3 separate regions of the Homo sapiens genome follow, and all the other regions are reported to be linked to region 3. Evidence: microRNA targets listed by miRTarBase, many of them from high-throughput screens and not tested one by one. Region 3 holds a microRNA gene; each other region holds the end of a gene's coding sequence.
Evidence for each region. The annotated mature microRNA hsa-miR-1231 reads GUGUCUGGGCGGACAGCUGC and lies in region 3 at 2,222-2,241, opposite strand. An mRNA with a match to its seed (bases 2 to 7 or 8) in the 3' UTR can be bound and repressed. Matches are read on the target gene's strand: a 7mer-m8 pairs with bases 2 to 8, a 7mer-A1 pairs with bases 2 to 7 and ends in A, and an 8mer does both.

Region 1 (3,246 bases), not on the chromosome of region 3:
TACAGGCATAAGCCACCATGCCCGGCCTGGGTTGATGTAGTTATTTGCATAGGTTTAAAGAGTTGATCCTCCTTCTTACTAGGATCTAACCAAAAAATTAAATTTGTAACTATGACCGTGCATGAAATAGAAACTGACCAGAAAACAACGAGGTCTGTTGCAAACCTTGTGATTCTCCTGTCCTTCCAAGTACATGATAAGATCATGTTTTCCTGGCCTTCTTGAATTTAGGCATGCTCATGACTTGATTTGGCCAATGATATAAGTGACAGGTGGAAATTTGAAGAGCCTTATGGAATTCGCTAAGTTCCCTCTTCCTGTTTCATAGAAGATGGAGCCTCCATCAGCCTGGGCCTGGAATGAGAAGCAGAACCCCCTGGCTGCTAATGTAGTCCAGGAAAGAGAAATGAACAGAATCCCTCTGATAACCCACATTAAACATTGCAGCTTGAGCAAGAAATAAACATGATTTGTGGCCAGGCACAGTGGCTCACATCTGTAATCCCAGCATTTTGAGAGGATCACTTCAGTGCAAGTTCAAGACCAACCTGGGTAAGATAGTGAGAACCTCCCTGTCTTTACTATTGTATATATATAATACATATTTTATATGTGTATATATTAGCTGGATGTTGTGGCTCACAGCTGTAGTCCCAACTACTCAGGAGGCTGAGGCAGGAAGATCACTTGAGCCCAGGAATTTGAAGCTGCCGTGAGCTATAATCATGCCAGTACTCCAGCCTGGGTGACAGAGAGAGACTCTGTCTCTAAACGAAAGAAAACAAACAAAAAAAACCCAAAAAGGTGAGTTGTATGATGCCACAGAAATATTACGAATGTTACTGTAATATAACCTGGCTTAATACAAAGGTTACAAACTATATTTAATGGAGAACGCTGCCTTAAAACCCTTCAGGTTATTGGTTTGGAACCTGCTTAGGAGTCGAAGTTTGGGTTCCCATCCTAGCTCTGGCAGAGCAGCTTAGGCCCAGCTCCTCTGGTCAGCCATGGACCCATTATCCCTTCAAGACACACATATTTATTCACTCCATGATGGGAAAGAGCATGTCCTTTCTTTTTTTTTTTTTTTTTTTTTTGAGGCGGAGTTTCGCTCTGTTGCCCAGGCAGGAGTGCAATGGTGTGATCTCTGGTCACTGCAACTTCTGCCTCCTGGGTTCGAGAGATTCTCCTGCCTCAGCCTCCCGAGTAGCTGGGATTACAGGTGCACACCACCACGTCCGGCTAAGTTTTGTATTTTTAGTAGAGACAGGGTTTTGCCATGTTGGCTAGGCTAATCTCGAACTCCTGACCTCAGGTGATCCGCCCGACTTGGCCTCCCAAAGAGCTGGGATTATAGGTGTGAGCCACTGTGCCTGGCCAGGCAATGTTCTTTAATTTATGTGTCTGTTTCTACATATGGAAAATGCAGACAGTAGTATCTACATGTCATCGGTATAAACAGTTTAGGATAGTGCCTAGCAGAAAATGCTTTGTGGGTATTAGCTGTTAGTGCCATATGGCTCTTGCTGCCACCCTTACCCTCTTCCCAGCAACCCATCCAAAACATGCTGGGTACAGCCATTCCCACCTCTTCTTTTGGAGAGCTGAGCACAGCACAGGAATCAACCCTGGGAAGCTTATGTTCAGTTTAAATGATAAAATCCTGAGCTAGGCTGGGCATGGTGTCTCACACTTGTAATCCCAGCACTTTGGGAGGCTGAGGTGGGTGGTTCACCTGAGGTTAGGAGTTCCAGACCAGCTTGGCCAACATGGCGAAACCCCATCTCTAATAAAAATACAAAAATTAGCCAGGCATGGTGGCCCACACCTATAGTCCCAGGTACTCGGGAGGCTGAGGCAGAATTGCTTGAATGTGGGAGGCAGAGGTTGCAGTGAGCTGAGACTGCGCTGGGTGTGGTGGCTCACGGTTGTAATCCCAGTACTTTTGAAGTCTGAGATGAAAGGTTTGCTTCAGGCCAGGAGTTTGAGATCAGCCTGGACGACATACCAAGATCTCCTCTTTATAAAAAAATGTAACAATTAGCCAGGTGGGGCTGGGCGCAGTGGCTCACGCCTGTAATCCCAGCACTTTGGGAGGCCAAGGCAGGCGGATCACTTGAGGTCGGGAGTTCAAGACCAGCCTGACCAACATGGAGAAACCCTGTCTCTACTAAAAATACAAAATCAGCCGGGCATGGTGGTGCATGCCTATAATCCCAGCTACTCTGGAGGCTGAGGCAAGAGAATCACTTGAACTTGGGAGGAGGAGGTTGCAGTGGGCCAAGATCATGCCATTGCACTCCAGCCTGGGCAACAAGAGCGAAACTCCATCTCAAAAAAAAAAAAAAAATTAGCCAGGTGTGGTGGCACATGGTTGCAGTCTCAAGTTGAGAGGCTGAGGTGGGAGGATCACTTGAGCCCAGGAGGCAGATGTTACAGTGAATCAAGGTCATGCCACTGCACTCCAGCCTGGTGACAGAGTGAGATCCTGTCTCAAAACAAACAAAATATTCCTGGGTGAGACCCTGTCTCAAAACAAACAAATGAAAAATTCCTGGGCTTGGCTCTAGATTGGAGCAATAGTAAAAAATGAAATTGAGAGCTACGAATGTCTCCTAAGTTAGAAAAATAGTTAAGTATCAGGCTAGTTTATAGCAACTGTCAGAGCTAGGAATTGGCCCAGTCTCACTGGTTTCAATCAATGGGAATTGGAAAACAAAACAGTCACGTTCCCATTCATATCCAAATAATTCTCAAGACACATGTGCGGTGTCTGGTTTATTCAAAGTGGCTGTCAGAGGCCCGACCATGGAGCAGGAACCAAATAGTTGGGAGCTGTGGGGCTGAACAGGGCAGGGATTTCCAGGTATCAGAAGGTAAAAGGAGGTCAGCTGAGCAGCCACAGCAGCATTAGGGCCAGGCTAAGCAGGAAAGGCCAGGCTGCCCAGGGCCCAGCCCCACTCATGGCTGCAGCATAGAACCTCGCCACCTCCTCATTGGGGTTGCCCTGGGCTGGGTCGAACCACATCTGGATGCAGCGGCCACTCCCTCGGCTGTAGTTGCTGACCTTGTAGGAGTGAGTCCAGATTTCATTGCACAGAACAGTGGGTGTGGGGAAGTAGAAATGGAAAGGTTGGCAGGCAGCTCCCACTGCGCACTTGTTAAACCCTGTAGAGAGGAGGGAAGACCTTTAGCCACTGGGCCCGGAACTATCTTGAGGTCTGCCAGCCCTACAACTCCAAATTG
Region 2 (3,246 bases), not on the chromosome of region 3:
CCAGGCGGTCCCGGACCCCAATGGTGATGGGGGATGGGTGTCCCCTGCCAGGCACACCCCCTATTAGGGCGGAGACAGCCTGTGGCCTGCCGGCTTCTCATCAGTCACTGTGGAGAGACCAGGGTGCCCACCCGAGGCCAGCCAAAGGCGTACTCCGCTGCTTGGAGCCCCTCGGAAGCTCTAGGGGACGTGGTCCTTGTCAGGGGTCTGGCCAGGGACGGGCCCGGTGCTGGGTGGAGCAAGCTGGGCTGGGGTCCAGGGGTCTGGGGCCACCCTCTGCTGGCCGAGGCCAGACCTGGACATGCAGGAGCTACAGCCCTGGGCATCCTGGGAGGGGACTTGTCCGGGGAGCTGGAGTGCAGGGGGGATGGTGGGGCTCATACACTGCCCTCCCCCAGCCCCCCCGGCACCCATGCAGAGCATCTCCAGCGGCATCAGGGAGACAGTGAGCCCCCAGGACATCGTGCAGGACGCCATCCACAACTTCTCCCCCGCCTACCAGCACTACACGCAGCAGGCCACGCACGAGGCGCCCAGGCCCGGCACCCACCCCAGCGGCGGCTCCGGCGGGAGCAGGAAGAGCCGGAGCCTGGAGAAGCGGATGCTGATCCCCTCGGAGGACCTGTAGGGGGGCCTGGGCTGCCAGTGCTGTAGGGACCCAGGCTGCCCAGGCCTCTGGGGAAGAACAGGGTCCCCCCACCCACCAACTCCTGCCAAAGGTGGGGCCTCTCCTGAGAGCCCACCTGTGAGGCCCTCGGAGCCCACTTCCCATCCTCCCTCCAGCCAGGGGGTCAGGGCACCTGATGGCCCTGGCAGGCACCCAGGTGGGCCCGCCACCGCAGGAGAGGGCACCTGAGCCAATCGGAAGAGCCTGGGGACCCCCTGGGATCACCCAGCCATCAGCCCCAGGAGCCACTGTGGGGCGGAGAGTGAGTGTGGCTGCGGGGCCTTGGCTGCACGGACCCCATGGGAGCTGTGAGTGGGTCAGACTCCCTGGTTCAGGAGACAGACAGCGGACGGATCCCAGGCTGGGCAGCTGGAGGGAGGGGCGCCGGGGCGCTGGGCAGCCGGGCTCTGACACAGTCAGCAGCTCCGGGCGCCGCAGGCCGGCGGGGTCCACACAGGCTGGCCGGGGCTGGGCCTCCTTGGAGCCTGCTACGGCCCTCGTGGGCACGTGGAGAAGGGCCCACGTGTCTCCACACGCCAGCCACAGGGGAGCCCTGGCCAGGCGCCCAGCCAGGGGAGCGTGTGCCTGGGATGGGTCACAGAACCAGCGGGCACCTGTGAGGCTGGCCAGCACCGTGGGGCTGTGGGAATCGCTCTTATTTATATTTAAACACCTTGGATTTTCTACCGGGTCTTGGCTTCTGTTCCCGCAGGGCATGAGCCTGAGGAGCAGGACGCGGTGGGGGTCACAGGAGGCTGCTGCTCAGAGTCTGCATGCGGGAAAGGGGTCCCACCTGTCTGGGGTGGGCAGCCTCGTGGTCCAGGGCAGTGCAGGGCAGAGCCTGGGCTGTGCGATCACAGCCACTGCCTTTCTCCTGGGAGCCTCCACTTCCTCCAAAACGGGCCTTGTGCCAGCCCCACCCGCGGCGAGCGGACAAGGCCACGAAGGCAGGGCCCTGAGTACCTGGGCGGGGGGGACACTCCCAGGGGGCACAGAGGGGGCTCCCACCTGGGCACCTGCCTCCTGCCCTTCTCTTCTTCCTCCACGTGCCAGGTGGGGCCCTGGGTTTGAGGAGCCTCGGACGCGTGCCCTGCCCGCAGGAAGCTGGAGGCGTGCAAGTGGCCTCGGAAATCGCGGCCGCAAGAACAGTAGCCGCCCAGGGACTAAGGGGGCTTCTGGGAGGACACACGGCTGGCCCAGGGCGAGGGGTGTCACTGCAGGGCGCCCCCCAGGCCCAGGGCCCGTCAGGGGACAGTACGGTGACCCGGCCTGCAGGTGGCAGTCAGTTCTGTGTGTCTGGGGCCCGCAGCACAGGTTGGGTGGGGGCTGGGGCAGGGGCAGCAGAAGTGGGCAAGGCCTGGGGGGCTCAGGCACTGGGCGTGGAGAGCAGACAGGAAGCTCCAGTGGGCACCACCCCGGGACCGCGGCTCCCACCCGTGCTGCCCCCCACCCATGGCCACGGTCACCAGGAACAGCGGGACCTGGGGTCTCCGAGGGACTCAGCAGGGCGGGCACAGACCAGTGGAGTCCGGGCTAGAGAGGGCCAGCTCCCAGCCTCTTGCTTCCTGGGCTGAGGACATGGGGATCCAAGGCCAGTGGGTCTGCAGGGCCCAGCCCGGCTGCCTGATAAGATAGGCTGAGCTCCTCCCTGCACGGCTGCAAAGACGCCCACCTGTCTTATTGGATCCCCACAGGAATAGACCCACCAGGCGGCCCCCGTGTCTCACTCTGTCAGCAGGTCCCCAGGGACCTGCTGCCGAGGGGCAGTTTCTGGAGGCTGGGGGCACTGGCTGGGCTCTAGGCCTGCTCTGCCCTTGCCGTGGGGAAGGCCACCCCGATAGGGGTCAAGTTGCTCAAATCTGCGTTTGGAGGGTGTGTGGCCGAGGGCTCCCTTTCTGGAGACCCAGACACCGCCTGGGCTCCGGGCGGCAGAGGCTGAGGTGTCAGGGGCTGAGCCCCTATGTCAGCAACACCTCAGGCCTGCACTTTAGGACAGGGGAGAAGTCAGTTTCCGCCAAATGCCCCCTCAGACCAGCCGAGGACTGTGCCAGGAAACTGACATGCTCAACGCTCAAGCCAGCTGGGACAGCGACCGAGCCCAGAGAGACGGAGCAAGTTGCCTGAGGTCACAGAGCAGGGACTTGGACACCAGGCAGCCGGCTCCACAGAGGCCCTCTCTCCTCCCTGCCTCCTGACCCTCAGACGCCTCCGCCCCACGGGTGAGGCTGCTTCTGCTTCTTTCCAACACGACTCGAAGGAAAGCCCTGAGGGCCGAGCCCGCTCTGCGTGGACGGAAGGCAGCGTGGGGCGGTCCAGGCCGGGGCTCAACCTGCCTCGAGGGGGAGCGTGGGCGCATGTGAGCGGGAGGGACGGAGACTAGCGTGGTTCCAGTGTCGTCATCGCTGCTAAAAAAGGGGTTTCCCGGTGACAGGCCCCGACAGAGGAGCAGGCCATGAGGCAGGCAGGAGCCGCGTATCTGGGCCCAGCGCACCCGCCAAGCTCTCTAGCCTCTCCTGGCCTCAGTATCCTTCTCTGGGAGATGGTCCAGCTGAAAATCCCCAGCATCCACAAGAAACGGT
Region 3 (3,246 bases):
GGAAAAGGGAACAATGAGGCAGGAAGGGGCCGAGGAAGGGTCTTAGGGAAGGCTGAGGCATGAACAAAGGCTGGCAGGGGTGTCGGGGGGCAGCCACCTTGCAAGACTGCTGGTGCATGTTGAAGGTGCTGACGATGCCCTCTGTGACCTCACGGCCAGAGCGCTCCACCAGGTACTCGGCCAAGCGATTGGTCAGGTAGGTCTTGCCCGTGCCGCTGGGGCCCGAGAGGACGAGGCGCCGGTGCTTCAGCAGGAGGCTTATGTAGTGCTGCATCATCGGCTTGGGGATCAGCGTCTCGAACACCAGGCTGTCGACGCATTTCTCCTTCAGACCTGAACCCCCACCCCAGAAAGCATGAGTATTGACCAGGGTCTTGAGGATAGCAAGGGATCCTAAAGGGCTTTTCTTTCTTTATCTAGGAGCCCCCTGAAGAAACTCAGAGCCACTTGCCCCATGGTTCCATAAGAGTCCCTTAACCCCTAGTTTTGAAAACTTAGATCTTCTTTTTAGGGACATGCTGTGAGCTGGGGGTGAGGAGTGAAGCAAGAAGCCAAGGCTTAGCAAAAGTGTCCCTGGGAGCCAAAGTTAGGACTGGGTCTTACTCATCTTTTTATATCTCACATTACTTAAGCATCTTCATATTATACCTTCTCAGTGAGTTCTTGGTGAATGAATGCATGATGGATTATTTGATGATCCTGTCCCTGCCTTCATGCCACACCACCTCACCCCAAGAGACAAAGACTGACCTTTGAGGGAGACTGATATGTTATTGACACCTCGACGGCAAGGAGGCATCTCGGGGGGCTCTGCATCCAACACTCGTTTCACGTGGCTGATGCTGTAGCCATGGATGGACTCAGTGCTTAGTCCCAGGGTAGAGGCTGGGTCCATTTTAGAAATATAGTCCTGACAGAAAAGACAGGCAGAAGAAGAAGAAAATATACAAACACAGGTGTAAAAGCCACAACAAAGAATGTCTATCAGAGGAAACAGAAATAGATGGAGAAAGTGCAGAGCATATGCTTTTCCTAGGTAGCATTTCTCCATAAAGCCTCAAAGGTCCCCAGGATCCCAGTGCCTGGACGGTTTAATATCCTGTGAGAAGCCATGCATGGTGGCACATGCTTGTAATCCCAGCTACTCAGGAGGCTGCGACAGGAGAATTACTTAAGCCCAAGAGTTCAAGGCTGCAGTGAGCTGTGATCACGCCACTGCCCTCCAGCCTGGGTGGCAAGAGTGAGACCCTGTCTCTAAAAAAGTATATATATTCCACGAGAGGATGAACAACCTTTTTGAGTACAGGTATCCCTTTACCTTGAACACTTGGAAAACAGCTTCATCCAGCATCTTCCAGTCAACTTTTCCACTGACCTTGCTACAGCCCAGGAAGAATTCCTGCTGCTTCAAGTCCTGTAAGGCCAAGGAAGGAAAAGCTCTTGAGCTTCACTGCAGATGACTCCATGAACCGGGGTCCTAAAGGCCTTAGGAGTTGAGTTCTTTGGTTTTGGAGGTACCCAGGGTCCAGATTTTCTTGGATAAATGTAACAGTATTTGTTCATTCCCACTGTGGCTCTCCCTGAAGTTCCTTACCCCTTTGATGATGTGCTGCGGGGGCATCCTCACCACCACCCGGAGGGTCACTTCCTCCTTTGGACCACAAGTACTGATGCCATCCATGGGTGACAGGTCTGTGGGGATTGAAAAGAACCAACTGGTTTTAGGAGTACCCGCAGCCTTTCCTAAACTTTCCCATCATTATCCTTTCCAAAATAACTCTGTTTGCCACAGAGAAGGAATGGAGGTCCCAAACTCAAAAGTAGTTAAGGTTGAAGGACCATTACAACTCAGTGTCTTAGGACACTGGCATCTGCTTGGCTTCGGCATTGTTACCGCCCTGACCAAAGCAAGTGGAATGGTGTAACAGTGAAATAAGCCCTTTTCTTCCCTTCACCCTTATAGATTCTTCTCCCACACAGGTACCTGTGTCTGCAAGACTGGGGCCGAAGGAATGGGTGAGTGCCAGGCCTAGGGAGCGGCGTGGGGAAGATAATGCAGATGATCCAGGGACCTGCCCTGGAGTGGAGCCTGATGAGGGGCCTGGGGCTACCTTCAGTCGGTCATTCTCTGCTTTCAGCAGGTCCACCTCCAACTGTGGCAAGAACAGACAGGGTAGGGTGGCAGACTGGACAGACAGCAAGCCTTGGTCTTCCCTTTCCTGCAGCTGTCCGCCCAGACACTGACCTGCATGTTGTGCATGGTCTCCCGAAGCTGATCCAGTTGGTGGGCAGAGTTGAGGGCCTCCAAGCGGATGTCTGTAAGCTTCATTTCCTTCTCCCATAGCTCAGAGCGCAGCTCCGATACCTCCTTCTTCTCTGGCTCCTCCTCCTCATTTGCATGGAACAGCCTAGTGTGGGGGGCTGGGTGAGCAGGGCCCCTGTAAGATAGCAAGAGTCAAGCCAGGCTACATGAAGAAGCACTAGAGTTACTAGAGAATATTGAGAGGCATGGTTGGTGGTCTTGGCTTCTCCTGCCCATTGATATTCAATCAGCATGAGAAGAAAGGTCCATCTGTTGGTCTCATATGCCCAGGGAGAGGTCAGTAATAAGTACTGCTTGTCTAAGGTCTAATGGCCTCCTGTCAACTCTAGCCCACAGCTTACACTGGTAACAGGCTGGGTGGCAGGGAGCCAAAGAGCACTTACTCGGTGACATCAGTGCCCACGGAGGACGAGGTGGAGGACTTGATGGAGGGTGAAGCAGTCTCTGTAGAACCATGCTGTAGTTTGGGGGATGAGGGGGCTGAAGAGTCGGGTGTAGCAATCTCCTCTATATCCGAGTATGAGGAAGCTGACTTGGGCCCCTTTTTTATACTGAACGCTTTGTTGAAGGAACTTCGAAGCTAGAAAAAAGCAGATCCAGGTAGAGGGACATTAGGACTCCACTACTGGGATGGGGGAGGACTGGATTGAGACTTCTGAGACAGAGAGAGCTGGAGGCGGGGGATTTACTTTAATTAAGCCACCCTCTATAACACTTCACTTGATTCATAGAATACGGACAGAAGAGTTGCCTAGAAATTAGGACCGTGGAGGCAGAGGTTGCAGTGAGCTGAGATCGAGCCACTGCACTCCAGCCTGGCAACAGAGTGAGACTCCATCTCAAAAGAAAGAAAGAAAGAAAGGAAATTAGGACCAAGAGAAAGAACAGAATCTTCTAGCTTGCTGATGTTGTAGGCTATGGGA

Region 1: the mRNA of FOLR1 is a reported target of hsa-miR-1231. Seed matches in the 3' UTR shown: 7mer-m8 at 2,771-2,777.
Region 2: the mRNA of TMEM184A is a reported target of hsa-miR-1231. Seed matches in the 3' UTR shown: 7mer-m8 at 2,571-2,577.

The regions. Positions count from the first base shown.
Region 1 is chr11:72,195,819-72,199,064 of GRCh38, reverse strand. It overlaps FOLR1 (folate receptor alpha), which reads right to left. Exons shown (of 4, transcript NM_016729.3): 4 at 2,766-3,168. The coding sequence ends at 2,888. FOLR1-AS1 (FOLR1 antisense RNA 1) reads left to right here. Exons shown (of 3, transcript NR_199595.1): 2 at 329-552. Among named protein-coding and RNA genes, the nearest start is that of FOLR1, 5.3 kb to the right of the region's middle.
Region 2 is chr7:1,544,334-1,547,579 of GRCh38, reverse strand. It overlaps TMEM184A (transmembrane protein 184A), which reads left to right. Exons shown (of 9, transcript NM_001097620.2): 9 at 399-3,246. The coding sequence ends at 628. Among named protein-coding and RNA genes, the nearest start is that of TMEM184A, 10 kb to the left of the region's middle. RefSeq lists an enhancer at 3,011-3,160.
Region 3 is chr1:201,807,610-201,810,855 of GRCh38, reverse strand. MIR1231 (microRNA 1231) reads right to left here and starts at 2,245; the gene lies at 2,154-2,245. NAV1 (neuron navigator 1) reads right to left here. Exons shown (of 34, transcript NM_001389617.1): 22 at 2,707-2,903; 23 at 2,246-2,438; 24 at 1,985-2,153; 25 at 1,595-1,692; 26 at 1,319-1,414; 27 at 751-910; 28 at 98-333. All of the region lies in intron 2 of IPO9-AS1 (IPO9 antisense RNA 1), which reads left to right.